Homo sapiens: one gene and its partner. The protein of the gene in region 1 interacts with the protein of each later gene in a pairwise test. Each region holds a gene or a part of one and is shown on either strand. Other genes may lie near its edges. The genes, in order: CRNN and LMO4.

Region 1 (2,848 bases):
GGCCTCAGTGCCAGGGGCAAGGTGCCAAGGGCAGCCCAGACAGTCAACTTGAGAGCCCAAACAGTTGCATTGTGAATTCAATAATTTATTAACTCTTCAATAAATCTTTATCTAATTTTCCTGTAGCCCAGAAATTGTGCCAAATAGAGGCTACCAAACAAAAAATGCTCTCTACACTTGAGGGAGAGAGACGGGACTAAAAAAAAATAAAGGCAATTAAGTCTTGCTGCTGCTCTAGCCGTATGTGTGTGTAGTGTGGGGTCTGAGGCAGGGGAAGCTGGCAGCAGATTGGAAGGGACCTGCCCATGTCCTCCTCAGGGGAGGGATGCTGACTCCACCTCATCTTCTCCTCAGAAACCCCACGATCCAGCAACTGTGGATGAGGTCCTGCGTCTGCTGGATGAAGACCACACAGGGACTGTGGAATTCAAGGAATTCCTGGTCTTAGTGTTTAAAGTTGCCCAGGCCTGTTTCAAGACACTGAGCGAGAGTGCTGAGGGAGCCTGCGGCTCTCAAGAGTCTGGAAGCCTCCACTCTGGGGCCTCGCAGGAGCTGGGCGAAGGACAGAGAAGTGGCACTGAAGTGGGAAGGGCGGGGAAAGGGCAGCATTATGAGGGGAGCAGCCACAGACAGAGCCAGCAGGGTTCCAGAGGGCAGAACAGGCCTGGGGTTCAGACCCAGGGTCAGGCCACTGGCTCTGCGTGGGTCAGCAGCTATGACAGGCAAGCTGAGTCCCAGAGCCAGGAAAGAATAAGCCCGCAGATACAACTCTCTGGGCAGACAGAGCAGACCCAGAAAGCTGGAGAAGGCAAGAGGAATCAGACAACAGAGATGAGGCCAGAGAGACAGCCACAGACCAGGGAACAGGACAGAGCCCACCAGACAGGTGAGACTGTGACTGGATCTGGAACTCAGACCCAGGCAGGTGCCACCCAGACTGTGGAGCAGGACAGCAGCCACCAGACAGGAAGAACCAGCAAGCAGACACAGGAGGCCACCAATGACCAGAACAGAGGGACTGAGACCCACGGTCAAGGCAGGAGCCAGACCAGCCAGGCTGTGACAGGAGGACATGCTCAGATACAGGCAGGGACACACACCCAGACACCCACCCAGACCGTGGAGCAGGACAGCAGCCACCAGACAGGAAGCACCAGCACCCAGACACAGGAGTCCACCAATGGCCAGAACAGAGGGACTGAGATCCACGGTCAAGGCAGGAGCCAGACCAGCCAGGCTGTGACAGGAGGACACACTCAGATACAGGCAGGGTCACACACCGAGACTGTGGAGCAGGACAGAAGCCAAACTGTAAGCCACGGAGGGGCTAGAGAACAGGGACAGACCCAGACGCAGCCAGGCAGTGGTCAAAGATGGATGCAAGTGAGCAACCCTGAGGCAGGAGAGACAGTACCGGGAGGACAGGCCCAGACTGGGGCAAGCACTGAGTCAGGAAGGCAGGAGTGGAGCAGCACTCACCCAAGGCGCTGTGTGACAGAAGGGCAGGGAGACAGACAGCCCACAGTGGTTGGTGAGGAATGGGTTGATGACCACTCAAGGGAGACAGTGATCCTCAGGCTGGACCAGGGCAACTTGCATACCAGTGTTTCCTCAGCACAGGGCCAGGATGCAGCCCAGTCAGAAGAGAAGCGAGGCATCACAGCTAGAGAGCTGTATTCCTACTTGAGAAGCACCAAGCCATGACTTCCCCGACTCCAATGTCCAGTACTGGAAGAAGACAGCTGGAGAGAGTTTGGCTTGTCCTGCATGGCCAATCCAGTGGGTGCATCCCTGGACATCAGCTCTTCATTATGCAGCTTCCCTTTTAGGTCTTTCTCAATGAGATAATTTCTGCAAGGAGCTTTCTATCCTGAACTCTTCTTTCTTACCTGCTTTGCGGTGCAGACCCTCTCAGGAGCAGGAAGACTCAGAGCAAGTCACCCCTTTGTACTGAATTGTCCTCATCTTGTGGGGGGTTTCAGGACTATTTTTATCTCTGACATCTCTCTATTGCCCCATCTACCCTAATGCATCAATAAAACCTTAAGCCACTGGCCTCTGTGTCTCATTCAACCACCTTCTATTGATATTACAGGCCAAAGGCTGTAGAGTTATGAGATGATGAACTGGACATAGTCCCTACCTTTGAAGAGCAACTAGTTGAGAAAATATTATATGAGATTCCTGCTATATATCATACTTAATACTTGGCAGAGATGGACCAGCAAAGGTTTCATACAAAAGGCGCTTTCTTTATGATGGCCCTGAAAAGACAATTAGTATTTAGATAGATAGGCAAAATTCCTCTTGGTCTTTCACTACCTCTAATTCTATAGCGTTAAACCGCTATTCACCTGTAAGGTCACACAGGAAAGCTGATTTAAGATTACCAAGAAATGGAAGAAGGCCCCCAGTGGCTGTGTAGGGAAAGAGCGAGAAAGCTTGTGTTACCAGGTACTGAGCCAGGGGCCAGAATTTTGTGCTTCCCTTCCTACCTCCCCCTCAGTGTCAGCTCTGACCTCTCATGATGTCTCACCCACCAGATATAAACCATGTTATGGGGTAGAGACTATCAATTCTGGTTTATTTTAAGAGTGACCAGAAGAACAGTTTTAAAATAAAGATTTATAGGGACGGGCGTGGTGGCTCACACCTGTAATCCCTGCATTTTGGGAGGCCTAGGTGGGCGGATCACCTGAGGCCAGGAGTTCAAGACCAGCCTGGCCAACAAGGTGAAACCCCACCTCCACTAAAAATATAAAAATTAGCTGGGCATGGTGGCACATGCCTGTAATCCCAGTTACTCAGGAGGCTGAGGCAGGAGAATTGCTTGAACCCAGGAGGCAGA
Region 2 (3,871 bases), about 65 Mb from region 1:
CTGCTTTTTCTCTTCTGTATTTTGAAGAAATTTAGTTTTTATTGTTGTTGAATAACAAGCTCACTTTAAATTTGAAGGAGTTGAGGGAGGTGGAGTGTATATTTATTTAGCTCTGGGCCAGTAAGGTATTCTTCAAATTACTTAACCACGCCATTATTGGCAGGGGTACAAAGTAGTTTCTAACAGGGTCCTTTCTATAAGTCAAGAATATTCTGTTAACAGCATTTCGTTACACTTCTATATCACAGTAAGTCTTTTGTGTTTATAAATACTTGAGTGTCCACTATTTTGTTTATTCTTTTTCTCAATAGCAAACAAAGCCTTGGGTATTGATGAAAAGTATGTATAAAAAAAAATACGGCACAACCATCCTGTTCTCTTATTGAGTTTATAGCTTTTGAAGGAAGTCACAATTTCTAAGTCATACCTGTACATATTTTGAAGCTCACTTAGTTGTAGGGACCCAGAGCTCTTTTTTTATGGTGATCTTTGATTGGTGAAGTAGCCATTTCCTGGTGACCCTTAGGCTCGTGTGGTTGGCTGTAAGGTGTTTATTTTGTTTTGCTCCTACACTTCTTTACTGACTGCGTTTCCGTATGTATTTTGGGGGAAGATTCTGACTTCATTTAGTCTTAGTCTTGAGATACTGAGTTGCTGGTTGCAGGCAGCAGAGTGTCCACCACAGTGCCTGCACTGCCCGCAGAGCTGCCCTCCGGAAAGCATGCAGTATAACAGCTAGTGCTGGAAGGAGGAAAACCAAATAGGCCTGGAGGCTGAGGTTGTACTGCCAGCTTCCTTAGATGTGAGCAAATTTCAACTACAACTTCCATCACAGGCTAATAAAACCAGGTGTGTGAACGCTACTATTTTAAATTTTCTTTTTTAAGATGGCATTTTATTTTGTTCCAGAAAAGCGCCTGATGTAGACCCTCCCTCTGAGAATAGCCGTGGAGCCATGTAGAGAGGTGTAGCTCAGCACATCTCAACTACCAGTCAGCTTCCCTTTGAGAACTTCTGTGCTCACTTCCTGTTTTCAGAGATTCCAGGGCAGGGGAAAAAAAAAATCAGTTGAACTTCAAACCTCCTAGAGGAGATTGTAAAGGCATAGAGTTGAGGTGAATAGTTTTGTTAGAACCTTATAAAAATAAAATGCAAGAAAATAATATGAAGAAATCACATATATATGTTTGAATTAGATGTCTGTTTGAATTAGATCCTTGGGGAATTTCTTCAAACTAGTTCTGGTTCTTATATTTGTTTTTTTTCCTTTAAGGAACTTTCTGAAGGAAGTTAGACTGCGATGGTAAAGGGGGAAATGGGTTAATGAGATTGCAGGCATTTTCTATATTCTTTTTGGCATAAGCACTTATGTCCCTGATATGTACAAATTCAAAGGAGGTGGTTAATAACTTTAGTAAATAATATATTGTCGCATTTAATGATGTGGAGGGCTAAGGTCATTACGGACTTTAAATAAACTATTATATGGCTGGTTCCTCAAGCACTGCTGCGTATTTAATAATGAGCTTCTAAAAGCATTTCTTAAGTTGCAGACCTATAAGATTACAAATGTCACTCATGTTAGTATAATCCACATGCAAGTGATGAAGCCTTCTCTTTGATGTGCTAAATTGGAGAAGGACTAATGGAGCTATGAATATACAATAGAACATATTTAAGTAGTAGTCTTGCTTTAGGTAAAACACTTTCTTGAAACCAGAGGCATTTCAAACAATAAAACCCGGCTCTAATGGGGATGCTCTGTGTGGATAGAAAGCTACTAAAAACACTCAGGTTTATTCTGATGTGAGCAGCGATTGTGTGCAGTTCCTCCCCCAATCTCAACATTGCTTAGGAAAAAAAAAAATCTATGAGTTTATTCCACCTTTCATCCATTGCATTTGTGATGTTATTAGTTAGCAAGATGGACACTGTTCTTTAGAAAGGACTTATTTAATATTAACCACGTCATAGAGCAAGATGGCCCCCAGTCCCTACAAGCAAGTGCAATTAAAAATAAAAGCAAATGTTACTGAGCCCTGCTGAACTCCTGATAAAAAAAATTATGTTTATGGTACATATAAATGTCTCAATCATGCAAATTGTCACTCTTGTTAATGAAACAATTTTGTAAAAAGATAGTCCTCTAAAAGGGTTTAATGTTTTTTACCTATCTAACTGTCTAATTAGATTTACACATCCCGCAAGGCAGGGGAGCCTGAAGCTTTTCCAAACCAAATCGTTTGCCACTAGAAACTATTTTCAGCTCTTCATGATTTATTAGGAAATAGTTTAACCCGGACTGTAGTGTCTTATAAAATACAAAACGAGAAAACTGACACACCAAAATGAAGTCTGTGAAATTGTCATCCTCTTAATATTACCTGTATTTAAATTCTTTCTTTTGCCCTTATTAACACTGATATTTGAAACAACTAATCATCTAAAAGGAAGCTCTTAAAGGGCTTTAAATGTCAATATAGTAAGATTCTAATGTGCACTACTATTTATATAAAATATTTCTTAGGGCCCATAAATCATATAATAAACAGTGAACCCAAGAGCTACATATGGAGTCTAGTGAAGAGTTCCCATGTAGCCTAACTAATTGTATTTAAATTGAGGAGATCCAAAAACCCCATCACCCTTCACCCCAAAGACCCCTTCACCCTTCACCAGGGAATTCTATCCTGGGTGCTGTCCCACCTATGACCCCTTCAAGAGGCCATTGGAAAAAGGCCATTTACAAGTTAATGTTACTTATAGCTTTGTTACTAAGACTCACCTATTGTTAGTGCAGCCAAGTCACAGAAGTGCTTATTGCAGTTAAATAGCAATTTGTTTCCATGAAACTGCAATTAAAGTATTACTGAGCAGCCATTTTAGATTGGCAGTGCTCTGAACGCATGTTAAACAGCCAGCTACTCCCACTTGCAGAGTCTGAGATCTGACTAGCAGCAAAGTGTAGCACATTCGCCGATGCTGGGTACCTAGTTAAAGAGGCATTTGTAGCCCTCTGCTCCCATCGTGAACATGCTGAGAGCAATGACAAGTCAGGGCTGATTTTTGGAAGGTGAACTTGCAACTTACCTCAAGTGAATACTGTTTTCAGTTGTGCAAGAAGTGCTTTATGCTAGTAGATATGTGCATGTTTCCTAGAGGGAATGTTTTCAAGTTCAGATTGATTCTGCTGAGAATGGACGGCAACTCGGAGGCCTCAAGCCAATAATGTACTACAGGCCCTGACATGTTACAGCTGTGTAAACAGGGCCATTCTATTTCCTAAATCACAACTAATAAAGCAGAGGATGAAAATCAATTGATTCTGTTATAAGTTCTTTGAATGACACTGGAAAGTTGTTTAATGACTCCCTGTTAGAATGGACAAGCCTGAGTAGAGTCACCAAAGTACCGATTTTAATTGTCTCTCTCCCCTCAGAACCAGGGCAGGACAGCCTTTCCTAGGAATTGACATCACCATCACCAGATCAAAACCTGCTGGGGAGAGGAAGGATCTGAACTGAGTTCTTCCCGTAGATCTGACATTCAGAATTTGTTGAGTGAGAAAGGTGAAGTGCAAAGGTTGCATTGAAAATGTGAAACATTGATGCAAGATCCTGAGAGAGAAAAGGATTTCAGAGGTGGTGTTTTAAAATGCAATTAGCACTGAATTCTAACCAGTTTGGAAACAATCATTAGCTCATGAGAACGGGAGGCATCTCACCTTCCTTCACTCTGGAACAACCCCCCATCTTGAACTAAAAGGTTAACATCCCCAACTTCTTCAAAAACAGTTTCTATATTTGTGTGCTTTCACCTGTTGTTTGAGCTGCAAGTTTTTTCTTAAGTTAGAGTTTCTTCCTAAATTAAT

The links.
Region 2: the proteins of CRNN (region 1) and LMO4 interact in binary tests that used the Homo sapiens proteins (3 or more experiments, as listed by UniProt).

What each region holds. Positions count from the first base shown.
Region 1 is NC_000001.11:152,408,450-152,411,297, reverse strand, and holds the end of CRNN (cornulin), read left to right. Parts: intron 1-354; coding exon 355-1,704; 3' UTR 1,705-2,055; downstream 2,056-2,848. UniProt on the Homo sapiens protein: Promotes cell proliferation, G1/S cell cycle progression and induces expression of the cell cycle regulator CCND1. Regulates proliferation induced by pro-inflammatory cytokine response via activation of NFKB1 and PI3K/AKT signaling pathways.
Region 2 is NC_000001.11:87,345,605-87,349,475, forward strand, and holds the end of LMO4 (LIM domain transcription factor LMO4), read left to right. Parts: 3' UTR 1-3,319; downstream 3,320-3,871. UniProt on the Homo sapiens protein: Transcription cofactor. Plays a role in establishing motor neuron identity, in concert with MNX1, acting, at least in part, to disrupt LDB1-LHX3 complexes thereby negatively modulating interneuron genes in motor neurons.